4 separate regions of the Homo sapiens genome follow, and all the other regions are linked to region 4. The links come from fine-mapping of genetic effects on gene expression. A gene starts in region 4. Each other region holds a variant in brackets. All regions are shown on one strand. Distances are from middle to middle.

Region 1 (4,000 bases), 36 kb before region 4:
TTAATGATACATTTTTAGTAAAATGTTATGTTTGTAAGAAGTTAGGACAATGCCTATTAATACTTACCAGAAAACTCAACACTACTAAGCTCTAGCTGAACATCCTTCATGTAGAAGGCTGAACACTGCAATACAAGTTGCCACTAACCCCTGCTACAGACGTTTTTCTTTAAAACTCAAAACTGTATCACGAAGACCTCACATCTAATCCATCTAAAATCAGACATCTGACTTATTCTTAGAAATATGAGTCAATCAAACTTTGGTTATCCTGACTCAGCTAAATAGCCCACTGACATTAGAAAAGCCAAATGGCACATTTAACTGAACCCTTTTTAATGTGGTTGGAGAAATAAACAGTGAGACAAAAGTCATGAATTCTATTTTCGGCTAACATACTCAAACTGACTATTTGCTGCAGAAAATAGTTACTACATTTTAAAACTTCTATTCTTCCAAAATGAACCTAACCTTTTTTTCTTTATTTTTTACCTTCTTGAAAAACAAGTCTCTCACTTCTCAGGCCAAAACGAAAAATAACTAGCTGAGTTCCTCAGCTAAGCTCCAAAACCACATTCCAAACTTAATAACAGAGAAGCTGAACACTTTATGGTCACAAAGTCCGCATTTTTAATGAATGCAGTGAACGCCTGCCTTTTTAGGGGCCTGCATTATTTTCATCCTCTCATTAGTCTAGTGTTTCTTCTATAAAGAAAAAAAATCCCAGAAATACTAATATTTTCATAAATATCATGGCAGTGAACTTGGAGAAGCCTCAAGTGCATCTCAAGCTATACTGTGAGAATCACAATTTTTTTCACTTGAATAAATTAGTCCTTGAGTCTCAAAAATGCTTTCCATAACTTCAAAACCTGAAGATAATTCAACATTTTCCGTTTTTCTAATAGTGTTCAAAAGAGAAAACACAAGTATTGCTTGAGAAAGTAAACAGACATCCTGATATTCAAACATGGACAGTTAATGTTCCCCCAATAATATATTTACAGCTCAGTGCAATGTCCTACTCCAGCTAAAAGTGAATTCCCAAGTGTTTCTTTATATAGACAGCATTATCACGTAAACCAAAAGCAAAGCTTACAGCTGGTAGCTGGTCACCTACCATAGAATGTGTTTTCATTAGCTATAGTCAAAATTTTAGCTACATGGGTCACAAATTGTGTCTAGAATCAAAAAAAGTTTGATCTGTCTGTAAATTTTTTTAAAGTGTGTGGGATTAAGAGAAAAGAGCTAAATGGAGGAAGTTTAAATCATCTTCAACCTTTGAACAAGCCACAATAACAGGTATTTGTAATGAAGGCCTTACTTAGTCACTTGCGTGGTTCTAGGGATTAATAGAGTTTGTGTATTCAAGAGGGGGCTGGATAGATTCAGGTCAACAAACTGAGTCATGTTTGCTCAGGTGAAAGCTAAAAATAACCACTCCCCAGTATTCCTAGGAGAGTAATGCAATATTACCCAGCTGCCTCAGCACACATTATAAATGTCTCCTCCACCCACCCATAGTATAAGGTTTAACTGAAAACAAGTAGGCCAAAA[A/G]CTACTTCTACACCAGACCAATTCAATGACAGAATAATTTGGCCAAAACTAAATATGCCTAGTCACTGTAAACTGGTTAACTCATGGTTGGTTAAGATAGCCTTGGGAATATGCACAGAAGTTATAAAACCATGAGCTATTCATTGAAAATGCAGTCCATTATGAATTCAGTTCTTTTTACTTTATCAAACATGACCATTTTATTTTGTCTGTATTTCAATACAGTATTTTTGGCCTCCACTTTTCCACTACAGCACATGAATTGTGAAATGTGATTCTATATAACATTTAATGTTAAAGTGATATGAAATCAATAAGACTTCTAACAAATTCAAGGTGTGAAGAAATGTACAAACACAACCTGAAGTCTCTATGAAAATTCAGTGGTCCCTCAGTTACACACATTACTATGGCTCACAGTATATTGTCCAAATTTGTCTTGAGTATCTACCATGCACTAGACACTGCCGGTTCTGGAGTAAACCTGATAGGCACCAACCATATGGAACGTACAAATAACGGAGGAAGCAGACAATAAATAAACAATTTCAGGAAAAAATAATTTTGATGAATGTTATATGTAACCTGACATTCCCTGAGAAAGGGCAACAGTCAGATATTTGGGAGGTGGGAGAAATGAATACACCAGAATGACAGAAAAATCCAGTCATCGTTACAACATAACCTTGAATAAAAATGTAAGTGAACAATGACTAAACCTGTAGTACTTCTTTTGGAAGAATATTCATTGACTCCAGTCAGCTTCCTGTTATTTCACTTCAAATGGCTATCCAGTTTACAAATTACTATCTAGCCAACCGCTAGCATTTATCATGCTTAAAATTGAGTCAACATTAAATCATTAGCCCCTATTCCTTCCAGAACCTGTAATTTAAGAGTTAGAGAGAGACAAGACTTGGTTGCCTCTTAGAAAAGTTAAAATAAAACTAAAACAACAGGCTGACATGACACATTGTCTCCATTTAAGCCAACATAGACTATTTATTTCTTTGCTTTATTATGAGTAATGAACATTTCTTTAGCAATCACCTAGGAGCATTACTATTATGCAGGTACCGTACTAACTAAAGACAGAGACGAATGGCCTCCCAGACCCCCATTTGCTCACAGGCTAGTGTGGGAGGCTGAGAAGTTCACAAAGAATTACACCCTGATTGGAAATTTCTTTGACAGAGGTTTGCACAGGATGCTCCAGTTGTAAAAAGAGCTGAGGGTAGCTTTCGGCAGGGCTTAGCCTTGGAAGAGAGCAGGTAATAGCCAAGGGAGAATGGGGGATGGCCAAGGAGGGAAGGTGCTGAGGTAGAGATAGAACATGTGCTGGGTCATAGAATATCTAAAACAATCATATTTTCTGCAGATATCTGTGCTTGAATATTAAAAATTAAAAAGAGATCATTTAACGGTGAAAACTGTAGTACTACTCTTATCTCTGTGTCCACCCTTGCCTTTTCTAATCAGTGGTATAATTCTACTAGAGTGCCTTGGCCTCTGCTCCCAATCATCCCTGCTGTACTCTATAGAGCACCATAAAGAAGGAATAATAAACAGAGCCACACATAACAAAGAACTTTTATTTGGCAGGAATGTTTCCTTTTATGACACCTATCTCTGCCCTGTAAGTAGCCACAAGGCCAGACCAGAGATCTGCTGGAAGGAGGCGGAGTGAGAGGGTAGTCAGGTGGGAATGAAGAAGCTCCCCGTCCTATTCCCACAAATGGCCCCAAAGAGCCTTTGAAGTCTCAGTCATCAGGTAATAATAGCCTTCCTCTAAATTAGAGGAAGAATGTCTGCCTTGCAACAAAGATGATATTTAAAGAATAATCTGCTTTGGGGTACAAGGGGAAGGAATGCAGAGAATAGACCAGTTGAAAAGGTAATTCCTGTTTATAAGAATTAATAATCAGAACAGCACCATTTTAAAAAGTAATGACTTAAAGTAAAAATGGTCAAAGATTTCAGAAATGTTTTAGAGAATTTTATGTTTACAATAGAATTTATCTAACAAAAATGATAGGAACAATACACATTGATTTAAAAACATACAAAAAGTTGGTAGCAGATACTTTCTCCTACTGACTTGAGACATTGATTTAACACCTGAAAACTAATCTCAGTTAAAAAGCTGCCAGCACCATCTCTCCACCTGTAAAAATGTGAATATTTATTTATATTTTATAATTTCATTTTATTTATTCTCTATCTTGTTCCATAAAACATTTTGGGGTACTAGAACTGGTTATTAGCCTTTATTTTTTAAAAATAATTGGGACTGATTTCAACGGATAGAATTAATGTTGGGGCGGGGGTGGGCAGAGACTACAAATTACTTGGTCTATGTCTATATCTTCAAAAGTTTGGGGAGCTTATATTCTCCAGCTATTGCTTTTTTTTTTTTTTTCCAGCTATTGCTTTTGAAACAACA
Region 2 (8,664 bases), 21 kb after region 4:
ATGGTGTTTTTCAGGAACAGGCATCAAGATTGCAAGTTTATTGAGCTTACAATCAATAAACATGTGATTTCTTCCATTTGATTTAAAAGGGTCTTTTAGAAATTTTTCTTGGCCATATTTTATCTTTTCTTTTTTGAGACAAGGTCTCACTCTGTCACCCAGGCTGGAGTGAAGTGGCACAATCATAGCTCTCTGCAGTCACAATCTCCTGGGCTCAGGTGATTACCTTGCCTAAGCCTACCCTGTAGCTAGGAATTCAGGTATGAGCCACCACTCCCAGCTAACTTAAAAAATATATATATATTATTTTTTTTGAGGTGGGGTCTGGCTGTGTTGCCCAGGCTGGTCTCGAAATTCTGACCTCAAGTGATACTCCTGCCTCAGCCTCCCAAAGTGCTGGAATTACAGTCATGAGATGCTGCACCCAGCCTATATTTTATTATTTTTAAGGAAGAGATATTGTACTACTTTTATTACTTTTATACCCAAACACAGAAAATTCCAGTGCTATTATAAAAAGTATTAAATTTTTTTTATTTTCTAGTTGTGTAGTACATATAAATAAAATTGATTTTCTATATCAACCTTCTATCCACTGACCTTACAAAATAAATGTATTCTTATAATTTGTTTGTAGATTTTTTCAATTTTTTTACATAAACAATCATGTCATATATGAACAATAATAATTTTACTTCTGTTTCCAAACTTTATAGCTTTCATTTTGTTTGCTTGCTTTATTGTATTGGTGAATTTCTCTAGTACAATCTAGAATTGAAATCACCATTATTATTTGATATTTATTTTGGAGATGCTAGCCATTGCAACTGAAGAAGAGAATAAAAAGAGAAACAAGAAGGAAACAAACTTAGAATTATGTGTGATTGATACAATTATAAATCTAAAAATTCAAATAAAAATAATTCAAGCAATAATAAAGCTAATCACAATAATTAAAAGTCAATTACTTGGCTGGATGTGGTGCCTCATGCCTGTAATCCCAGCACTTTGGGAGACTGAGGCAGGTGGATCATGTGAGGTCAGGAGTTTGAGACCAGCCAGGCCAACATGGTGAAACCCCACCTCTACTAAAACTACAAAAAATTAGCCGGGCGTGGTGGTGCGCACCTGTAGTCCTGGTTACTTGGGGGACTGAGACAGGAGAATTGCTTGAACCTGGGAGGTGGAGGTTGCAGTGAGCCAAGATTGCGCCACTGCACTCCAGCCTGGGCGACTGAGTGAGACTCCATCTCAAAAAAAAAAAAAAAAAAAAAGTCCAGTACTTTACTTTAGAATAATGATTATCTGCTAGAAAGTAGAATGGAGAAGAATATCTCATTCACAATAACTATTCTAGGAATGAATCTAATAAGAAAGCATGAAAATTTAAAATTTCACTGAGTCAAAATTTTTAAAAATGAGTTAAATGAAAAGACATCTTTTGTTTGGATAGATGAATCTATCTATCTATCTATCTATCTATCTATCTATCTATCTATCATCTATCTATCTATCTATCTATCTATCTATCTATATCTATCATCTATCTATCTATATCTGTCTATCTACCTACCTACCTATCTATTTTTTAGTGGGATTAAGTGGTTTATTCAAAGTTATCTGATTAGTAACATTTTTCTAAAGTTTATGTTCCTATGTTACTTCTCTGCATACAATTTTTTTTTTTACTTTAAGTTCTGGGGTACACGTGCAAAATGTGCAGTTTTGTTACATAGGTATACACGTGCTATGGTGGTTTGCTGCACCTATCAACCCGTCATCTACGTTAGGCATTTCTTCTAATGCTATCCCTCCCCTAGCCCCCCACCCCCCAACAGGCCCAGATGTCTGGATGTGTGGTGTTCCCTTCCCTTGTGTCCATGTGTTCTCCTTGTTCAACTCCCACTTATGAGTGAGAACATGCGGTGTTTGATTTTCTGTTCTTGTGATAATTTGCTGAGAATGATGGTTTCCATCTGATGAATCAATATTTTGAAAGAGTTATTTTTGAATTAATCTAAACTATAAAGCAATTCCTATCAAAAATATAAACAAAGTTTTTTGAAGATTTTTGAAATTTGAATGAAATGATGCTAAAATTTATATGACAAAATAAACACGTAGGAAAATATTTGAAAAGAGAAGAATCATGAGGTGGGTTGAGTACATCAGATAAAGTGTTGCTTTAAAGTATCTGAACTTTCTTTCTGACCACAAATAAACAAAAAAGATCAATGAGATAGATGAACAAATCCATAAATAATCTGGAGTAATTATCTGAGTTTAATAATAAAATGATAAAAGTCACATTTTTAATAAATGAGAAAAATATAAATTATTAAATAAATAATGTTGGTAATACTGATTGAACATTTGAAAAACATAAACCTGGATTTTACCCTTCCTTCTTCTCTATTAAGATGTGAATAAAAGAAATCCCAAAATAATAAGCAAGAACATGAATAATACTAATCCAAACATAAACTTGGTATAGGAAATGCCTTTCTAAACTTATTTCAAAGTCCTCAAGCCAAAAGAAAAAGATTAATATCTACATTTTAATCTTAACATTTTCAATTTCTATCAATTTTAACACTCTGCCGTGAAAAAAGGTCAAATAGAAGACAAGCACATATTGGGAAAAAATATTTGCAACAAATACGACAAGGCACCTTAATATAAAAAAAATTCTTCCAAATAAGTAAATAAAAGGTAAGGCTGAGCATGGTGGCTCAAACCTGTAATCCCAGCACTTTGAGAGGCTGAGGCTGGAGCATTCCTTGAGGCCAGGAGTTTGAAACCAGCCTGGTCAACATAGCCAGACCCTATGGCCTCTACAAAAGAAAAATTCAAAAATTAACTGGGAGTGGTGGCATGTACCTGTAGTCTGAGGTACTGGGGAGGCTGAAGCAGGAGGACCGTTTGAGCTTCGAAGTCTGAAGCTACAGTGAGCCATGATTGCACCATTGCACTCTATCTGGGTGGCAGAGTGAAACCCTGTCTCCAAAACAAAAACAGAAACAAAGATATATAACCCAATAGAAAAAAAGTGGGCAAAGGAGTTTATGGAAAAAATATGAGTGCGCAATTCACACCTGAAAAGATACTTAACCATATAATATTTTAAAATACATAAACTGAAGAACAAAGTGTATTTTTTTATCCAATTAAGAATATTAAAAGGTTATGTAAGCCCAAAGCTGAAGGGAACTATGCAGGTCTATATATTGTTGATAGAATAAATTATTACAAACCTTTTGTAGGAAATTTATCAACATCTATCCAAATTATTGCTGAGCATACTCTTTGACCCCCAAATTGAAATTTATCTTACCCATATGCCTGCAAAAGTGTTCAAAGATATGTCTACAGGAATTTCATCATTTTGCTGTAGCATTGCTTTGCTTTTTAAGATAGTGTTATGGGCTGAGCAGTCTTTTCCTAAAATTTGTATGTGAAAACCCTCACTCTCCGCACCTGAAAATGTGACTGTATGTGGAAATAAAGCTTTTAAAGAGGTTGTTAAATTAAGATGAGACTGTTAGTGTGGGTCCTTATCCAATCCAACTGGTGTCCTTGTAAAGAAGAGGAGATTAAGACACTGGAGGCACACCAAGGATGTGAGCAAACAGAGAAAATCAATGTGAGGGCTTAGAAATAAGGCAGCCAACTGCAAGCCAAGGAGAGAGGTCTCAGAAGAAACTCAACCTGCTGACATCTTGACCTTGGACTATTAGCCTCCAGAACTGTGAGAAAATAAATTTCTGCTGTTTAAGCCACCCAGACTGAGGTATTTTGTTATGGCAGCCTGAGCAAATTAATATAAACACTGAAAGTGAAATATTCTCAATGGCTATAAAT[G/A]GAAGAAAATGTTACCAGAGGTTACGTCCGTGGTTACAGAGAAGGAAAAGATAGAAGGTAGGGAAATTTGATGTTTTAATTTATGCTTTCTTATTTTGTTTATTTTAAAATTTTGAACCTTATTGCTGCTGTAATAAAATAAACCAGCTAATTTTAAAAAGTGATAGAGAATTTGCGTCAACTTATAAAGTCCCAGAAATATGCCCAGAAATCTCCTTTGAGACCTACAAAGCTTCTATTGATTTATTTATCTTTGATTTGTCATTTTTTATGATGTAGGTTTAAAAATAAATTATTTATTTAAACTCTTTTGTTTGGTTCAGTTGCTGGTGATTCAGCAATTTTCTATTGTTCTTCTTTCATAATCTTTGGGTTTATTTCATCTTCCTTCCAAAACTTAAGAAACCATGATTTCGTCACTCAAGGATCACATTGGGACATCGGAAAAGTCCTCCAGGTGAAGTTGAGTTATTTATTTCTGAAGAAGACATCAACCAACCTACTGTAATATGAAACAAGTAATAACCATTCGGTTGTAATAGCTCTCTATTTTAATTACACTTTAGGCCAGAAGAGTTAGGGAAAAATATATAGTAGACAGCACTGTTATTGGGCAATGTTCCACTTTAAACACAAATCCACAGCCGTACTTCAAATCTTCTTAGATACATGATTCTCAGATAGTTAAGGGAATAGAAAAATAGTGGAGTCACTAATTACTTGGCCTTAGATGTTAGTATAACTCTAATGCCAACTCTTCCCCCCTTTATTTTAGGAGACTATTGTTGAAGTCAAAGTAACTATCTCATTTTGTTTAAAAATGTGAAAGTGTGAGTTATGTAATAAAGAGACAATGGGAAGTTTGATTAACACAGCTGCAAACTGTTAAGATATTCTTTAAGAAGAGAACACTTATGGAGTAGGAGTGGATGAGATGCAAGAACTGAATGACAGAAAATGTCCTTAAGCCTTGGCATCCTCACACCTTTTCATGCTTGGCTTGCATTGGGTCTACAGGCTTCACTGATGTTATAATCCAATTGAATAAGCATTTCTCTTATGGGTTTCCTATGGATCCGGAGCTTCTGTTAGGTTCTGTGAGGGTAACAAAAGAAGTGTATGACATATATGCCTTGAAGGACATTAGGAGACATGTAGCAACAGTAGCTTTTGGCGGCCTTAAGCAGAGGGAACGCCATCCTTACTGAAGCCCTTGGTCTCAGGAGTAGGAATTACAGAGTAAAAGGACAAGAGAGGAAGGATCACAAGGGCTTGATGGAGATTTTCATCTCAAATATAAAATCCAAAAGGTTCTGAAAACCAAACTATCTTGGGGTTATTTATAATTTGTATTTATCCCACTGAATGCAGAGATATTCATATGTTTTACTGAAGAAATGTTAGTATATTAATTTGAGTATTTTATAGCAACACTTCACCTACCTTCTCCCTCATGGGAAGAAATATATTTCCCTAACGTTGTAAGGGAGGAAACCACCTCTCATATTGTCTTATGCCCAATTTCTGCCTCCAAAGAAAGAAAAAGTAAAAACTAAAGGCAGAAATGAAATCTGCAAGCAGACAGCCTGGTGCCACACCCTGGGCCTGGTAGTTATAAATTGACCCCTGACCTAATTGGTTACGTTATCTATAGATTACAGACATTGTACAGAAAAGCACTGTGAAAATCCCTATCCTGTTTTGTTCCAATCTAATTACCGGTGCATGCAGCCCCCAGTCACATACCCCCTGCTTGCTCAATCAATCATGACCCTCTCACGCACACCCCCTTAGAGTTGTGAGCCCTTAAAAGGGACAGGAATTGCTCGCTTGGGGAGCTCAGCTCTTGAGACAGGAGTCTTGCTGATGCCCCTGGCCGAATAAACCCCTTCTTTCTTTAACTCGGTGTCTGAGGAGTTTTGCCTGCGGCTGGTCCTGCTACAGCTGGACTTAGTCATATGACTGGCTTTGGCCAATGGAATGTGAGGGGAGCTGATGAGAGCAGAGGCATTAAATGTGCTGATGAGATTTGAGTTTTTTGGGTCTTTGGCCTTCCCATTATTCACCATGAGAAGGCCTGCCCCAGGGAATCAGTGATCCTGAAAGAATGAGAAGAAATACAGAACAGCATCCCCACAGAGCTATGAAATAAGAAAAACATGGTTGCTTTTGTAAGCCATCGAGTTTTGGAGTGTTTTGTTATGATGAATTATTGAGGTAATAGCTAGCTGATACAATGCTTTAGATTTTAAAATGCTACCTCAGACTCTGCTGGGGATGTTACATAATATACAGTATGTACACCACATCTCCTTTGTAAACATGCTGTCTAAAATTTTTGGTACTTTTTATTGAGGTATCGTAGTTATACATATCTTGGGGTACATGTGATATTTTGATACACATATGTAATGTGTAATTATCAATCAGGGCAAACGGGGTGTCCACCACCTCAAATATTTATCTTCTCTTTTTATTTGAAACATTACAATTCTTCCCATCTACCTATTTTGAAATATACAATACTGATTATTAACTATAATTTCCCTACTGTATATCAAATACCATAACCTATTCCTTCTACCTAACAGTATTTTGGTGCTTATTAACCAACTTCTCTTCATCTCCACTGGTTTCCTTACAGGCCCTTGGTCAGCACCATTCTACTCTCAACCTCCTTGAAATCCATTATTTTAGCTCCTGTATATGAGTGAGAATATGTGATATTTGTGTGTATGTGCCTGGCTTATTTCATTTAACATGATGACCTCCAGCCATGTTGTTGCAAATAGGACTCTTCTTTTTTATGGCTAATATTCCATTGTGTATATGTAACATTTTCTATATCCACTCATTCAATAATGGACACTTAGGTTGATTCCATATCTTGGCTATTGTGAATAGTGCTGAAATACACATGGGAATGCAGATATCTGTGCAATATACTGGTTTCCTTTCTTTTGGATATATACCTCGCCTTGGGATTGCTGGACAATATGATAGTTTTATTCTTAATTCTTTGACAAACCTTCATACCATTTTCCATAATGGCTGTGCTACTTTACATTCCCAACAATAGTGTACAGCTGTTCTCTTTTGTGGAATCCTCATAAAGATTTGTTATTTTTTGTCTTTTTAATAATAGCCATTTTAACTGGGATGATATTATATCTCATTGTGTTTTTGATTTGCATTTTCTCTGATGATTAGTGATGTTGAGCATTTTTTCATATACCCATTGGTAATTTGTATGCTTTCTTTTGAGAAAAGTCTATTTAGGTCTTTTGAAATGTCTATTTAGGTCACTTTTAAATTGGATTATTTGATTATTTGTTTTTTTGCTATTGAGTTGTTTGAGTCCCTTATATATTCTTGTTAATTCCTTGTTGGATGGGTAGTATGCAAGTATTTTCTCCCATTCTGTAGGTTTCTCCTCACTTTGTCAATTGTTTCCTTTGCTGTGCAGAGCATTTTGGCTTGATGTAATCCCATTTGTCTATTTTTGCTTTTGTTACCTATGCTTTTGAGGTCTTACCCAAAATATCTTTGTACAGATCAATGTTCTATATTGTTTCCCCAATGTTTTCTTCTAGTACTTTTGTAGTTTCAGGTCTTACATTTATGTTTTTAGTCTATTTTGTGTTGATTTTTGTATATGGTAGAAGATGGGAATCTAATTTTATTCTTCTGTATATGGATGTCTAGTTCTCTGCACACCATTTATTAAAGAGACTATCTTTTCCTGAATGTATGTCCTTGGTGCCTTTGTTGAAAATGAGTTAACTGTAAGTGTGGATTTATTTCTGGATTCTCTATTCTGTTATATTGGTCTATGTGTCTGTTTTAATGCCAATTCTATGCTGCTTTGGTTACTATAGCTTTATAGCACAATTAGAAATTAGATAGTGCGACGCCTCCAACTTTGTTTATTTTGCTCAGGATTGCTTTAGCTATTGGGGATCTTTTGTTATTTCCATATGAATTTTAGGATTGTTTTTCTATATCTGTGAAGAATTGTTGCTGGTATTTTGATAGGGATGGCACTGAATCTGTAGATTGCTTTGGGCAGTATGGATATTTTATTTTATTTTATTTTATTTATTTTTTTGAGACAGAGTCTCGCTCTGTCGCCCAGGCTGGAGTGCAGTGGCACAATCTCTGCTCACTGCAACCTCCACCTCCCAGGTTCAAGCAATTCTCCTGCCTCAGCCTCCCAAGTAGCTGGGATTTCAGGCACCCACCACCACACCCAGCTAATTTTGTGTATTTTTAGTAGAGACAGGGTTTCGCCATGTTGGCCAGGCTGGTCTCGAACTCCTGACCTCAGGTGATCCACCCGCCTCGGCCTCCCAAAGTGCTGGGATTACAGGCGTAAGCCACCATGCCAGGCCTGGATATTTTAATAATATTACACCTTCTAATCCATGAACATGCGGTATCTTTCCATTTTTCTGTGTGGTCTCTTCCATTTCTTTCATCGGTGTTTTATAGTTTTTCTATTAAAGATATTTTACTTCTTTGGTTAAATTTATTCCTATGGGGTTTTGTTGTAGTATTGTAAATAAGATTACTTTCTTGATTTTTTTTCAGATTGATTACTGTTAATGTATAGAAATGCTGCTTATTTTTGTATATTGATTTTGTATCTTGCAACTGTACTAAATTTATCTGTTCTAACAGCTTTTTGATGGAGTATTTATATTTTTTTCCAAATAAAAGTTTATATCATCTGCAAACAAGGATAATTTGACTTCTTCCTTTCCAATAAAAAGCCTTTATTTTTCCATAAAAAGCCTTTAATTA
Region 3 (8,664 bases), 120 kb after region 4:
TTTTTAATACCAAGAGATGACCAGCTCAGTAATATGTATTCTTGTATCAGCTCTTACATTTCCCCTGCCTCACTCTCCTTTTCCCTCACTCTTGCTTCCTGGGATTGCATCCTATAATAAAGTAGTAGCACGTAAACTTTGTCTCAGGCACTGCTTTCTGGAGAATCCAGATTAAGACAGTTGTTCAATGATTGTTGAAAGGTATGGGAAAATCAAAGATACTTGTTTTGTGTTTTTATTTTGAGGCTTAGCACCCCCTAGTGGAATTTATTTTTCACTTTCATTCATACCGAGAGCCCCCAAAAGGTTTCTTGTGTACCATTAAGTCTTCTCAGGCAGAAATAGGTCTGGCTAAAACACCAGGAGATAAAGAAGGCTGCATATAGATGCCAGAGTCATTACATATCTCTATTAATACCTGGAGGAGTCCGTAACACAATGAAAAAACTAAGACTAACTCAATCCACATCATGTAATGTGAATGAAATATAAGTAAAAAAAAAAAATCAATTCTGATTGTTTTATAGCAATTCATCTGTTGGACTTTCCAGAGAACCTTCATGAGAAAACAGATTTTCTTGAATGTGTCTGATGTTGCTTTTGCCCCATGCAGTCTGTGTTTTTGTGTCAAGCAGGTTGTTACTGGTAGCCCATAGTCTTGACCTCTGCCAGTGCTCGGAGCTCATTTCAAGTACCCCATCTTTATCAATGAGGATTTCATCTTCTTAAATGTCCACCACATTGAGCCTGTTGTTAATCTCAGAAATTGTGTTCAGCTGTAAGAGATAATTTTATGTTGTTTTTGCTGCCCAATATCCATTTATCCTTTTTGTGGCAATGGTAGCTGATTCTTTGTTGGGATATGTAATCCTCCTCCACTTTCATCCATAAACTTTTTTTTTTCTTTTTCTTTTTTTTTTTTTTTTTTTTTTTTTTTTTTTTTTTTTAGACAGGGTCTCGCTCTGTCACCCAGGCTGGAGTGCAATGGTGTGGTCTCGGCTCACTGCAACCTCCTGCTCTCGGGCTCAAGCACTTCTCCTGCCTCAGCCTCCCGAGTAACTGGGATTACAGGTGCCTGCCACTGCGCCCGGCTAATTTTTGTATATATATATTTTTAGTAGAGACGGGATTTCACCATGTTGGCCAGGCTGGTCTCGAACTCCTGACCTCGTGATCCGCCTGCCTTAACCTCCCAAAGTGCTGGGATTACAGGTGTGAGCCACTGCGCCCAGCCCTCATCCATAAACTTCTTTTTGAAAATGCCTTAAGTTCAGGGTCCGGGGTATAATTAGCATATTTCATCACCACAGTGAATAGTTCAGGATTGAGCATATACCCAAATTGAGACTATAAATGCTGAGGATATTTGGTTTTGCATTTTTTTGTTTGACATTTTGAGAAGAGACTTTCCTCTTTCACTGAACTAGTTCTTGTGATGATGTGAGCCTGCTGCCACCGGAAGCCACCTTGCAAAGTCTGAGAATGCAACCAACATAGAGGAAGTAGAACTGAGAAGTGAAGCCAGCTGGACTTCCTGGGCCAAGTGGGGACTTGGAGAACTTTTAAAAAAATTATTATTATTATACTTTAAGTTCTAGAGTACATGTGCACAATGTGCAGATTTGTTACATATGTATACATGTGCCATGTTGGTGTGCTGCACCTATTAACTCGTCATTTACATTAGGTATATCTCCTAATGCTATCCCTTCCCCCTCCCCCCACCCCACAACAGGCCCCGGTGTGTGATGTTCCCCACCCTGTGTCCAAGTGTTCTCATTGTTCAATTCCCACCTATGAGTGAGAACATGCGGTGTTTAGTTTTGTCCTTGTGATAGTTTGCTCAGAATGATGATTTCCAGCTACATCCATGTCCCTACAAAGGACATGAACTCATCCTTTTTTATGGCTGCATAGTATTCCATGGTGTATATGTGCTACATTTTGTTAATCCAGTGTATCATTGATGGACATTTGGGTTGGTAACTTGGAGAACATTCCTGTCTTACAAGAGGATTGTAAAACGCACCAATCAGCACTCTGTAGCTAGAATTGTAAAATGCACCAATCAGCACTCTGTAGCTCGCAAGGGGATTGTAAAATGCATCAATCAGCGCTCTGTAAAAACATACCAAACAGTGTTCTGTAGCTAGCAAGAGGATTGTAAAATGCACCAATCCGTGCTCTGTAGCTAGCAAGAGGATTGTAAAATGCAACAATCAGCACTCTGTAAAATGCACCAATCAACACTCTGTAAAATGCACCGATCAGCAAGATCCTAAAAGTAGCCAAATGCAGGGAGTATTGAAAAAAGGGCACTCTGATAGGACAGAAATGGAACATGGGCGGGGCCAATAAGGGAATAAAAGCTGGTCACCCCAGCCAGCAGCAACAACCTGTTCGGGTCCCCTTCCATGCTGTAGAAGCTTTGTTCTTTCGCTCTTCACAATAAATCTTGCTGCTGCTCACTCTTTGGGTCTGTGTCATCTTTAAGAGCTGTAACACTCACCGTGAAGGTCCGCAACTTCATTCTTGAAGTCAGTGAGACCATGAACCCACCAACAGGAACCAACTCTGGACACAGAACTAAGGAATGGCTCCTGGAGGCATCATTTTATTCCAGAATGAGGCCACTGCTGAAGTCAGCCCTTTTTGTATATTTTACAATTACATTAGCCAATAACTTCCCTTCTTTGTTTAAGCTAGATTGAGTTGGGCTTTTTAATCACTTTCAACTAAAAGATTCCTAACTGGTAAACTGTTCAATTCTGAACTTATAGCCTTGTTCCAACTTGATTCTCTCTTGGTATTTATTATTTTAGTGATTGCAATTATCATCCATCCAGTTGTGCCAACTAGAAATTTAGGAGTTATCTTGACACCTTAATTTTTCAGTTTCCATATCTAATTCACCACTGAATTTTGGATATTTTGTCATTTAATCATATTTTGAAATGATCTAATTTTTATTCCATATCCACACTCTAGTTCAAGATAGCCACATCTCTCACTTGAACTGCTACTACTACTAAAATAATATTACACCTAACCTTCTCTGAGCTCCTCATCCATTCTCCCATCTGTTTTCCATTCTTCATCCAGAGGGATTTTTTTCAAAGTACAAATCTGACCATATAATGTCCCTTTATTCCAGTCCTCCTATTAAAACCCCAAAGTTACTCTTAGAATAATGAAAACTCCTAAGAAAGTTTGACTCTCACCCATCTCCTTCATCTCAGTGACACTAAAGTCTACACTCTAAAGTCACTGAGGGCCACTGCATAAGTTGATTCTTCTGCCCGGAATGATCTTTCTTCCCCTTTTCAGATCTCAACTTTGGGCCATTTTTTTGATTAAACCTCGTCTGGCCTCCATGATTAAGTCAAATAACAGTATTCCAGAATTCATATCACTGTGTGCTTGGTTTGGGATCTATCACAAACTAGGGGTGATATCTGTTTCTTGACTACATTTTTATTCTTTTAACATGAATGAGATAGTTAAGACAGAAACCAGTCAAAAGAATTCACAAAGCATTTTTTCAACTACGAAAAGCAATGTCCAAATGATAATTTATCTGCATTGCTGTCTGTCTGAAAGAGGTCTTGATTCCCAGAGTGGGTGTTGATGGGACAAACGTGGTTGAATGGTAGGAATGCGAAAGAGGCAGGAGGACGTGAATGTGAAAATCGATTGACGTAGAACAGATGAACCAGGCATTCTATTATTTTCTATAACTTGCTGAATGGGAATAGGTTGTGACTGATCTTATTATTAACCCTGGCTTGGAGAAAAATCCTTATAATTTCACT[C/T]TAATGTCAAAGTTTGAAGCCTATACAGCCATCCCAGGATAAACTGAACAGATCCTGTGGCAGCTATTGGTGTATGCTGCTGTTATTTTCCTTGAAGTGGGAACACTCTGCAAAGAGAAGAGTCAGTTGACAGCCTCTAGATGCTGCAGGTTTGGGGTCCATTGAAGTGAGCGTGATGAGGCTATATGGTCTCTGGGCTGCTCTCAGACAGTAACTGAGCATGGCAGGGGTACTAGAGCTTAGCCATTCTTGTCCAAAATGGGATTCCTCTAATGGGATAACTTTGCTCTGGGGTGCCTTGTTGACCTGGTCAAGACTCTCAGATCTGCATCACAGTCTGGAGCTTTGCCTTACCACTTTTCTTCCCTTCCTCTTTCTTTTCATAGGTCGCAGATGAGCATCATGGTCTGAAGCCCCTTCCCTCCTACTCCTGTTCCTTTTCCTTTATTATTCATAGTCATTTACCCCAATTCATCATTTGCAGATCTAATTCTGCCTTGGTATCTGCTTCCAGGAGGATCTGAACTGACACACACATTCACTTGGGAGCTACTTATGGAAGAAAAGGATGTGGAATGTTTTCCTCTCTCCTTTCACTGTATCTGGAGGGAGGAAAGTAGATTTGGTGTTAGGGAAGCAGGTTTCTTTTGGCTACCTGTATGTTGGTGATGGCTAGTTTGCTGCACATTCCAAAGCTGATCATCACCATCCATCAATTTCATCAATATCTCCTGATGTGGGGGACCTATAGATTTGGATGGTGATGAACATGGCCCTGAGCCACTGTCTAGGCATCTGCGGTTTCTGTGAAGTTTTACGATGCATCTTCCATCTGAAGCCATCTTACTTACAACTCCCATGCATGTGCCTCTGATGCATGCGGTCGATTTGGCACAAGCCTTCCCTTCCATCCCTACCCATCTTTTGATGTCCCTATTGTGATCCAATTGTTTATACCTCTCAGGAGACATGGTGTGTATGTGGCGAGAGTAGCTTTGCGGCTAAGCCTTGCCCTCTTCTGCCAATACCCATCCCTTCCTTCCAAAATGCTTTTCCCTAAGTTTTGTTAGGAAACCCTGAGACTAAGCAGACCAGAAGCTGGTAAGCAAGATGCCAGTCTCCTGTTCCTGTGGTGCCACTGTACCACTGTAGTATGGCTGTCTAATGGATTCCCCCAAACCAGGAGTCAGGGTTCATGCAACATGCTCTTCACATCCAGGAACTTGAATCTGACCCCAAAAGATCTCTTCCTGTTCTTTAGCTCATCTTAATTTTACCTTTCTCCTAGCAAGAGAATGGAGGTAGGGAAGACGAACTGTTCTTAGTTTACTCTGATTTTTTCCTTTGGTCCCACTCTGGCAAGTTCTTCATTGAACTTGATCTAGGACATTTTGGAGTAGGGGGGTAGTGAGGAAAGCAAATTAACATTTTCAGTGGCTGTCACTGGTCAAACACATACCTTGCAAATCTGTCTAGTTGCCCACCTTGTTAAGTTACAAGGCTTTAGTAAGATAACATATGTAGAGTGTTTAGAAGAGTGCCTGGACACAGTAAACAATCAGTAATATTAGCTATTATTTTACATTGATGAAAAATTTAGCCAAAGCCAGAAACAAATTTTATTATGTAAAAATCTTATATATTTCCTAATTCTCCCAGCAAAAGTGAGAATTTATCAAGTACTTATTCTGTTCAAAATGGCAAAAGAAAGTAATATATTGTATTTATAATTTTTAAAATGATGGGATTCTAACTTACTGGAGAATCCACAGGCACAGAATTAAAAGGGAAGGGTCCTTTGGTAAACTTCCTTCAACGCCATCTGCTTTCTAATGCTATGCTTTCTTCTTGAATTTCTCCTCAGTCTGTGCTTTGGGGCATCTCTAGTTCAGGAGTAAATGACTTTCACTATGTGAAAATAATGACATTTTCATCCCACGTAGTGCCCCTGGACAGAGTCATTTCACTCTGTCTGTATGATCTGCATCACCATGTGGATGTTGTATGAATTGGGCGGCTGTGGCTTCACTGGGTCAGATTTCCCAGACCTTTACACTATCACTATGTTCGAATACTATAGCACATTTTCTCTCAATTATTATAACAGTGTGTTTTAAAATGAGTGATTATTAAAATATTATTTTAGAACAGTTCCTGTTCTCGAATGCTGCCAGCATTTGTACTCCTAGGTAATCTTTTACAGCAGGGGTTAGCAAACTGCAGCCTACCACCTATTTTCGTAAGTAAAGTTTTGTTGGGACATAGCTATGATTATTTATTTTTTCTTTGTCTGTGGCTGCTTTTGCACTATAATGGCAGAGTTCAGTAGTTGCAATACAGATCATAGGGCCTATAAGTCTAAAACCTTTACTATCTGATCCTTTATGGAAAAGGCTTGCTGACTTCTGTTCTGTAGCGTGATTATTTCTGCAGAGGAATGTCCACACCCAGAAGATACAGGGTGGGGTTCTCTGACTTTTTTTAGAGGCAGATATTTGGCCACTTCTGAAGAGGAGGGAAGGGGATTTATTAGTTTTCTAGCTTACTCCAGCTGGGTTATATCAGCAGGGAGAAAGAACAAAAATCGGTGCTGTTGAACACAAGTGACTTACTGTTCCCTGTCCATGGCCCTGTTTCAAGTTCATCCTTAGGCTTGTGGCCTTTAGGACTCAGCTCCCTTTTTTTGGAGTTATATTAATATGGCACTATCAGTTTGAAAGGGAAGGAGAGAAGGATGGTCAGATTTTCCCTTTCATCAATATTTTGCCTAAAGTTGGCAGCCTTTCCTCTCAGCTTTGGGACTCAAAGATTATCCATGCTCTTTTAATATTAATATTCTGCCTAGCAGGGGGCAGCTTTTGAAGTGTACCTACATTTTGCAGTTGATATAGTTCATGTTTCCTTCAGATTTTTTTTTAAACCAATTGATTGAGAATGGCAGACTTTCTCACTGTCTCCTTCATGTGTCTTAACCTCTATTTCATATTTTCCTTTTGTCTATCTGGCAGTGCTTTGCTAATTCTTTTTTTTTAAATCTCCATTTTCCAGTTCACTAAATCTCTCCACTGCTGAGTCTAATTTCCTGTTTTTTAATTGTGATTTTTTCAATTTCTAGAATCTCTATTTGGCTCAGTTTTATATCTAGCTGGCGGATTCTAATAGTCTATTATGCTAGTGTCTTATTTTTCACTACTCTTCAATTTAAAAAAATATACTAGACATACACATCTATTATTTTGGGTCTGATTATTCCCAAATCTAGTCTCTGCAGTCATATTCTGATGTTTGTTCTGACTGCCAACTCTCACTTATTGTAGTTTGTTTCCTTCTCTGATAATTTATTTTATTGTGGTCTTGGAACTTTGTCTCTGAGAATTCTTTAAGCCCGTGCTTGAAGTGACTTTCTCTAGAGTATATTTGATATTTTAAGCCCCATTTCTTGGAATACTGCCAAGTAGGAATCAGTCAAATTACATTTGAGTTGGGGTTTTCAATTAAAAGGGCAGTTTGGATTTTGACCCTCACATTATGAGAATGTAGGTTTGTGTGAAGAATTTTCAGGGGAGCCATTTATTTTTATTTTTTATTTATGTTTTCTTTTTTCACACAAAGCTGAGAAACGAGTGTCTCTATGCCTGTGTCTATAGAGAGAGGTTGTTTCCAGTTTACCATTGGGGCTATGACCCTTTTGTGGTCCTGACACTGAGCTGACTTCCCACTCTGCATTGATTTTGGCCTTTGTCTCCTGTTTGTTGTCAGTGGCCCCTTAATAACCCAAATTTCAGGCCACCAGGGACCAAGAATCAGCAAGTACCTTCAAGGAAAAGATTGGCTTTGGTACTAACTTATATTTGTGTATCCTTGGACTCCCCTGAATAATTATATCCCTTCCCAACAGCTCAGTCATACATAAAACATTTTGTTACTTTAAAAAACTTTTCATAAGCATTTTTTGGTGTGTTAAACCAGAAGGGGTTTCACTTAATGTTTATATAGGCATATCAAGAAAGAAAAAAAGGAATTTAAAAAAAGAAAAAAAAATCACTGTTTCTTCCAGTTTTAACGAAGAAAAAAAAAGACATATGTAGTCATATTATCAGAAATGTCCCTTCATCTAAAAACTCATTTTGTCTACTCTTCTGTATATGTCTCTCACCCTTCTTTCTCCACAACATCTCTTGCATCTTTTCTTTATTCCTTTTTTCCATTCTCATTCTTATTCAAGTCCTCTACACCTTAGACGTGTACTATTGCAAGGGCCTCCAGTGCAAATCCTTCTCTTCCCTGTGGCCCATCTTCTAGTTCTTCCTGTACCTGATAGCCACATCTAGCTTCCTGTAAATTTACTTAGACAAATGAAATGCAAACAGTCAGCAATGGCATATTTGTATTGGTATTTTAGAAAATGTCTAAAAGAAAAATGATCAGCAATACAGGGAAGAGAAATTGTATCATTAGAGAAAATAAGTAAATGAATATATATTTTTATATGTCATATATATTTTACACATATGACAATGAGATACATATATCAGACATATATATTTATATGTCATATATATGCTATATATATATATATATATATATATATATATATATATATAACAATTAGATAAGTACTGTTCCAAAGCAGGTCCATGATGCTGTGTCTGGAATCAGAGAGAAAGGAGAGATCAAAGCTGCTTAGATAGAGAGTGAGATTCTGCATGGCTTTACAGAGAAGTTGGTCCCTTAGTCTTGAAGTAGCAGTTATGCAGTTGGAAATAGGTCAAGAAAAGGTATTCGTGGAGTAGAAACACTGTACAAAGACACCATTTCTTATAGTTTGTTTGGAGACAAGAAAGTACTGGAG
Region 4 (7,909 bases):
GCGACGCCGCCGGCGCCCCCGGGCGTTTTCCCCGCACCCCACATCGCGTGGGCGCCCGTAAAGGCACGCGCGGAGAAAGCCCCTCCGTGGACTCCCCACTCCGCAAAGTTTAACAAAGCCGTGAAGTAAGGAAACCGAACCTCCCGTCCGCGCCCGCTGCAAAGTTGGCATTGAAGTTTGTGCCGGGATGTCCCAAATCTTGAGGGGGCGGGGGGCGCGAGTGTGCAGAGAGGCGGGAGGATGGATGCAGATGGGGAGACAGTGAGGGGAAGGGAGTTTTTCCGAGTGGACGGTCCGTGAGGCGGTTTTCTTCACCCGGAAGCCTGTTTGACTCAGAGAGGTCCGGGAGGTGCACGCCAGGGGAGGTCTCCCGGGGCGGGCGCTGTCGCCGAGGAGGCCGGCGAGCTGTCACCTGCGGGGGGCTGTGGTGGGAGCTGAGGGCGCTCTCCTAAGCGCCAAAAGAGGACGGGGACATTCACAGTCACCGGCTCTCGGGGCTCTAAGTAGTGGGGGAAGGGATATTCACGAGTGGGCAGGAGGCCAAAAGCAACACCTTTCGGATACGCTTTTCCCCTCCGACCTCTCCAACTTCCCGCGGCGCTGGTCAAGGACTCCCTCCCACCCCACCCCATCCCACCCAACCTCCCGGCCGACAATTCGGACCTGTCCACGGCAGAGCGTGGGGTGGAGTGCGGCGGGAAAGCAGAGGGCGCGAAGGTCGGGACCCCAAATTGCAAACCCTCAGCCCCTAGCAAAGACGACCAAATGCATTTACAACCGTGCAAGTATCTCAGCCTTGTAACAGAGCTCCGGGTTTGCGCCGGGCACAGTTCCCCGACTCTTCTGTTGTTCCTAATAAAGTCGATTACGTTGCCCTCCCGGAGCTGATTGGAAGGGAACCGAGAGGAAAAGGGGGGGAACGCGGGAAAAAGCGGGGGGGGGGGGGGGCGAGCAATCAACTTTGTAACCCAGCGCTTCCTCGCGCGATCCGTCGCCATGCTTAAGATTCCCACCCCCGCCGCCCCCCTCTTGCCTTTCAAGTGGATACTGAAACTAGGCCAAAACTTTTTCCCCTCCTTTTCTCTTAGCCACTAGACTGGATTGTGCCCCACGGAGCCCCATGGAGCTCTGCTTTCTTAAGCACAATAGCCGGACTAATTAGATCATAGAAGCAAGGCAGTGATACTGTAACAAGTAGCCCAAGAGGCAAAGAGGGAAGGGGCCCGAAAAGACAGAAAGGGGGAAAAGTTTGCAGCTCTCCGCACTTACCAATCAAGCCTCCCACCAGAAAGGCGATGATTTGGAACACGAGCAGAATCCCACCAACAATGCACAGCTTCTTGGTGCTCATGTTTTCTATAATTGCCCCAGCCATTTTTGCGCCCCCCCTTTTTCTTTTCTCCTTGAAATAAATGTTTTAGGGTGAGCTTTTTGCTCCCTCCTCTCACACACTCCCTCCTTCCTCGCCTCCTTTCTGGGCGCTGCAAAACTTCAGAGGTGCTGGAGCGCGGCGAGGATGGGACCGGGACGGAAGGCGCCCGCACGGATTCCCCCGGCGCAGCCGGCTCGGGTTCCCCCAATGCCCGGAGCTGTGATTGTGGCCGCTCCGCCGCCTGTGGACGCTTAAAGGAGCAGGGAAGCGGATCACATGACGCCGCCTCCCTCCCTTTCTTCCTCCCTCCCTCTCGCGCTTCCTCCCTCCCTCCCTCCCTCTCTTCCTCTACCCCTTGCCCACCAGTTCGGGGCTCAGAGCTCTGGCGGGTGCTGGCGCCTGGCTCCCGAGTCTGGCCTGCAACCTGTCTCTCCAAGGTCTGATGCCATTTAGGGGTTGCTGTTGATGTTAAGCGGGTTCCCCCTGCCCAGCTTCTCACAGGTTTCCTTTTCTGGTTTCCGAAGTGCGAGATTTAAATCACCGGTGGACCGCCTTGCAGACCTTTAACTTACGCGTTGACTTTAGGAAATGGTCCCCACCCCACCCCCAACTGCTAGAACTCTCTTTAGGAAAGAGGAGGAGAATTTTTTTTAAAAGGACCCAATAGATGCCTAAGTCAAAACACAGAGATGCGGAATAAAGTCTCAGCTCGACTTCTTTCTACCAGATTCCCAGCCTCGGTTATTGGGCACATACCCAGCTAAATTCCCCACGGCGCCCCTTGAGGAAACTTGCTCTCCAGCCAAATCAGACCACTGTTCGTTACTCCAGCACATGTGCTTCCACAGCCTTAACCCTGGTTATTGCCTTAAAGAGAACATGTTCTACTCCATCAATGTTAAACCTGATCCAAAACCAACTAGTGTTAAAAAATCTTTCTAATTTTCCACACCACCTCCATGCAGTATCTCTGGGAACTGAGCCCCTACAATCCTGTATTTACATTTTTACCTCCTATTGTAAGGATTTGTGTACACGTTTGTCTCCACCACTGAGCTGTAAACTCCTGGGGAATAGGGACCAAGTTTTTTTTGTTCTTTGTACCCCCCATGGTGCCTAACAAAATGCTAGCTCTAGTAGGTGCCCCATAATCTTTTGTGGAATGAATAAGTGAATGTGAAAGCAAGCCCACAGTTTGTATTTCAAAGGTCTAAAGAGATCTTAGTTGGTTTAGAGGGTACCTATATTAAGTTACAATGTTTGTTGTCTCTTTGTGAGAAATCATATATTTATATTTATACTTAACTTCCATAAAAAGAGGGGCGGGGCTCCCGATAGAGATTTCCTGCTCTATCAAGCCTAAATTTCTGGGCCTGGTTTTTCCATGTTTCATAAACTGGCCGCTTGGCCAGTACAACTCACCTTACTCAATAGACCCTTGGTTTGGTAAATACCCCACCCTGCTCCCCAAACGTGCAGTTTCTACCACCACCACCCACACATCTTGTTTCTTGTCCCTCCCATCCTTACACACCCTCTTCATGCCAAGAGACTATTTTTCCCAGTCCTCTCTCCTCCTCTACTCTGTTCCTGAATTTTCATTGCCCTTATAAAAGATGTCATGCAGGTTACACTTAATAGAAGCATTCATTTCTAATCTCCAAATAGAACAGAGACTTGTCAAGGACAAGCACCAAACTTTATGCATACAAAACTCCATCTCTTCAACATCTAATAGTTCTTAACAGTTCTGAGGATATACACATCATTATGTGTCACATAAGGATGTTTCAGTCAACAACAGACCGTGTGTGTGACAGTAGTCCTATAAGGTTATAATACCATATTCTTACAACACCTTTTCTATAGATATGTTTAGATACACAGAGTGCTTACTATTGCATTACAGTTGTCTACAGTGTTCAGTACAGTAACATGCCAGACAGGTTTGTAGTCTAGGAGCAATCAGCTACACGGTGTAGCCTAGGTCTGTAGTAGGCTATGCTACCTAGGTTTATGTAAGTGCCCTCTATGACATTTGCACAATGACAAATCACCTAACAACACATTCTCAGAAGGTATTCCCATCATTAAGCAATGCATGACTGTGGTTGCTGTTTATCTATTCTCTCATTCAACTCTTTATCCAAGTCACTTATTGAGCCTTTAACATGTTCCAGGCTTTCTTTCTTAAGCACTCAAGGATACCAAGATGTCAAAGTACTTGCACCTGCCCCAGAGGAACCCCCCCCCAGTCCAAATGTTATTCACTGAATAGTAATTAATTACCTCTACTTTGGCAAACACCAGGTACTATCAGAAAGGATGAAGTAGACAGAATTGTTGTCCTTCCAATGTCCTTCAGTTCAAAGTACTCAGATACCTTGGGGTATCATGTTCTGAGCCCAGCACTCCTAAGGGCCCATTTATCTTTCCTAAAAGTCATTTGTTTTCTCATAAATACACTTCTTCTCCTATTAAGATAGAATATAAGCTCCAAATTCTATTAACAACTGCCTCCTTGAGTGGTTATGAATGCCCACATACATTTGATATATGTGAACAAAAATTTGTCTTTTGCCTTGCTAATCTGTCTTTTGTCAGTTTAGTCCACAGACCCCCAAGCACTATGCATAAGAGGGTAGAGAAAAAATGGTGGGTTTTTTGTTTATTTATTTGTTTGTTTGTTTTTGAGACAGAGTCTCATTCTGTCGCCCAGTCTGCAGTGCAGTGACACGATCTTGGCTCACTGCAACCTCTGCCTCCTGAGCTCAAGCAATTCTCCTGCCTCAGCCTCCTGTGTAGCTGGGATTACAGGTGCCCACCACCACATCTAGCTAATTTTTGTATTTTTAGTAGAAATGGGGTTTCGCCATGTTGGCTAGGCTGGTCTTGAACTCCTGACCTCAGGTGATCCACCCACCTCTGCTCCCAAAGTGCTGGGATTACAGGTGTGAGCTACCACGCCTGGCCCCCGTCCACTTCAAATATAAACTGGATCCATAAAAAATGTCTGGAGTGGTAGAAGTGATTTATTCAGATTAGTGAACTCCTTGACTTAGTTTTTAATGAGCTGCTACAATACACCCCACCCCCTCTGCTCTGAAATGCATCTCTGCAGAGTAACTAGCCTAACTCCTTAGGTTTCAGTTTTCTCATCTGTAAATGAGTTGCTGGTTCTCCACCAAGATGATCCCCTGCTTTAAAAGAGCACTTATTAAATAGTTATTTTAATTAAAAAGGGATATTTCTAATTGCTAATCAGTACTTCTGTCATGAGATTACCAATAATGCCCAACTTGGTGGGATGTAGACACCTGTAGTATTCATCACCATGGGCTGCTTTAAAAAAATTGAATTTCTATCACATCTTTTTAAACATTAAAAGTGACTGTGAATCTTTATTTCCCAAGCGGACAACACAGGTGAATAGAAAAGAACATGACAGTTAGAGTCAGCTGGATCTGGTTTGGAACCCAGATCCCATCTGCCCCTTGTTTCATGTGATTATAGGCCATTATGCAGTTACTTACCACCTCTGAGGCTTCACAGACCAACTCTGAGGCTTCTGTAAAACCTTCACTCTTTACAGAAGAGTTTTCCCTTCCGTAAAATGGGAATAATAGTACTATTTCATGGTATTCTTGTAAGATATGAATATTTATTATTATATTTAGGAAACTAAGGGAAATCAATAATTTTGTGTTTAAAAACTAGTAAAACTAGTAAAACTGATGACTGATTATTGCTCAGCTCTAAAATTTTTATCATATTGTGATTACTGTTTGAAGCATATGTTAGGAGAAGTCTAGGTGGTTAACTTTACTTGACAAGTGTGTTAATAAGGACAACATCTAGAATTGAACTTTGACAATACTCAGTGGTTTTTAACATAGAAACATCTGTTCTAAAAACTTCCAGCTGCCAAGGAAATGTTTGTTTTGAGTCATTGTCATTAGGTAGATTATCCCAGAGACTGAAATGATCCAAGGGCAAATCCAACTCTGTCAATAAAAACTGATCATTTCAACTCCATTCCACTAGACTTTATATTAGGTATTCTGATTTATTCATCATTTTATTCAAAGTGTTTGGGATATGCCGGGCATGGTGGCTCACGCCTGTAATCCCAGCACTTTGGGAGGCTGAGGTGGGCGGATTACCTGAGGTCAGGAGTTCGAGACCAGCCTGACCAACATGGAGAAACCCTGTCTCTACTAAAAATACAAATTAGCCGGGCGTGGTGAGGCATGCCTGTAATCGGGAGGCTGAGGCGGGAGAATCACTTGAACCTGGGAGGCGGAGGTTGCAGTGAGCTGAGATCACGCCATTGCACTCCAGCCTGGGCAACAATGGCAAAATTCCATCTCAAAAAAAAAAAAAGTGTTTGGGATATGGAAGGTCATAGTGATGTTCCATGCGTATGTATTGAATAGATGAATGAATGCATGAATTCATGAATGAATGAATGGATAAATGGATATCTAACTGAAGGTAGATATAACTCCTCCCTCACCCCCAGTTCCTATATATAATTGACTGACTATATTCCTACCTGGCACCTATACACTAGACTGCATTTTGCACATGTATCTATATATGTGATGTGTTGTTACCCTAACTGGCTTGCAAATTCCTTCAACACAAGGAGAGTGTGATCTGAGCCTTTGTGTGCCTCACAGTCCCAGCACAGCACCTTGCACAGAGGAGGGCTTAGATTCTGAAGTTGAGAAAGCCTCCTTTGGAAGCCAAGAGCAGCACATTATTATTGGCATTGCAGTAAATGTAATGTAGAGTTCTAAAAAGATTGAATACATCTCCTGAAACATCTAATTTACTTCCCAGAGGAAACTAACAAGAGGAATAATCCCACTCTGAGTCTTCTCATTCTCATAAATAGCTTTTATCCATAAATGGCATCCCTATGGCTCCATGGTTGTTGGTATTTTCTGGTAATTGGTACCTGTGAATGTGAGCGAGCACTGTGGGTTCACACTCTATTATTCAGTGTCACTTTTCACCACACACACACACACACATACACACACACATATAGACACACACACACACAACTTCTTTTAAAATGCTCTTTTTCCCCCAAACAAAACCACCCCTCCCTTCTTTTTCTGCGGACCCCATTGTCTTATTTTGTATGGAGATACAAGACCTTTCTTAATGCCTCCTTTTACACAATAACTGTGGGTAGGAACTATTCAGAAAACCAATACTTCAACCTGATCTTCAATTGCTTAATAAATACCCCATGTCCCACTCCCGTTTTGCATCTCCACCTCCTCTGTAGATCTTCATTTCACCTTTTCTTTTACATTCCACAGACATTTCAGTCATTAGGCTTATTCAGTCACAGCTTTATGTCTTGCTAGCTGTGTAAATAAATGTGGGGAAATTACTTTTCTCATTTCTTGCAAAGAATAAATAATACCAGTCTTATGGGTTGTGATCATTAAACAAAATAAAAAATGCCTAGCACAGTGCCTGACACAAAGTGAATACTCAACAAATATGGCATGTTATAGGGGAGGAGGATTCTGTTCCCAGAGAGCAAAACAAAACAAAACAAAACAAACCATAAAACCCCTAATTATAGTCTCTCTTATAAAATTGCCTCTTTGAACCCAGGCAACCTGGAAGGGCAGGTAAGAAACTTTACAGGTTTCCAGAGGCCTCTAGTGGGAGGCAATCAACAGTTTGAAGTAGCCAGCCAGCCCCCTGTTTCTCAGGCTTGAAAGAAGCTGCAGCAGAGAGCTGGGAAGCCTCCAGTGTTTAAGCCTTTGAGATCACCTGTGCTGGGTTCCTCCACCAGAGGTGGGGAAAAGGGCTTTTTCTTTTTGCCAGTTTTCATGGTATAAGCCAAATAGGGGCTGAGCTGACTGCTCCTTCATGTCATGATGGCTCTTCTTCCCCGTCTCCCCATGAACTTTCTCATGCTGACAAGTTCCTCGATATCTGCTTCTCTCCGCGCAGAGTGGCAATAGGTGGAAAACCCGGGAAGGCCCAGAAACACCTGCCCCGGACAGTGATTCCTGTGATATGCAGACAACACCCAGTACCGTGGCAGACTTGGCACACAAATTTTTGTAATGAATAATGATGAATGAGCCGGGCGCGGTGGCTCACGCCTGTAATCCTAGCACTTTGGGAGGCCGAGGCGGGCGGATCACGAGGTCAGGAGATCGAGACCATCTTGGCTAACACGGTGAAACCCTGTCTCTACTAAATATACAAAAAATTAGCCGTGCTTGGTGGCAGGCGCCTGTAGTCCCAGCTACTCGGGAGGCTGAGGCAGGAGAATGGTGTGAATCCGGGAGGCGGAGCTTGCAGTTAGCTGAGATCGTGCCACTGCACTCCAGCCTGGGAGACAGAGCAAGACTCCGTCTAAAAAAAAAAAAAAAAAAGATGAATGAATAAGTTCCAGTCCCTGGCTATGCAGGGGTTTGGGGAAACCTCCCATAGACGGCCAATGTCAGGAAGAGAAGCTGAGGCTTAACCTCAGCATTAACCTAGATGTGTTAAGAA

Which allele goes with the higher level. Positions count from the first base shown, and alleles are read on the strand shown. Sizes are in standard deviations (SD) of each study's normalised expression. Not every link is listed here.
For the expression in transverse colon of the gene that starts at base 1,599 in region 4, allele G in region 1 goes with a higher level than allele A (large effect, 0.86 SD a copy in CEDAR).
With allele G in place of A in region 2, the expression in sigmoid colon of the gene that starts at base 1,599 in region 4 is higher (moderate effect, 0.45 SD a copy in GTEx).

The links. PIP is the estimated chance that this variant, and not a neighbour inherited with it, causes the effect.
Region 1: its variant is the best candidate, but not a certain one, in a credible set for the expression of WLS in transverse colon (CEDAR, PIP 0.55).
Region 2: its variant is the best candidate, but not a certain one, in a credible set for the expression of WLS in sigmoid colon (GTEx, PIP 0.85).
Region 3: its variant is the best candidate, but not a certain one, in a credible set for the expression of WLS in blood mononuclear cells (TOPMed, PIP 0.71).

What each region holds. Positions count from the first base shown.
Region 1 is chr1:68,196,607-68,200,606 of GRCh38, forward strand. The region is part of intron 1 of WLS (Wnt ligand secretion mediator); the gene reads right to left. All of the region lies in intron 9 of GNG12-AS1 (GNG12, DIRAS3 and WLS antisense RNA 1), which reads left to right. Among named protein-coding and RNA genes, the nearest start is that of MIR1262, 15 kb to the left of the region's middle. RefSeq lists an enhancer at 3,038-3,539. The variant A/G (reference allele first, on the strand shown) is at 1,558.
Region 2 is chr1:68,251,214-68,259,877 of GRCh38, forward strand. No RefSeq gene overlaps it. Among named protein-coding and RNA genes, the nearest start is that of WLS, 23 kb to the left of the region's middle. The variant G/A (reference allele first, on the strand shown) is at 3,862.
Region 3 is chr1:68,346,132-68,354,795 of GRCh38, forward strand. No RefSeq gene overlaps it. Among named protein-coding and RNA genes, the nearest start is that of RPE65, 99 kb to the right of the region's middle. The variant C/T (reference allele first, on the strand shown) is at 3,813.
Region 4 is chr1:68,230,925-68,238,833 of GRCh38, forward strand. WLS (Wnt ligand secretion mediator) reads right to left here and starts at 1,599. Exons shown (of 12, transcript NM_024911.7): 1 at 1,270-1,599. The coding sequence starts at 1,375.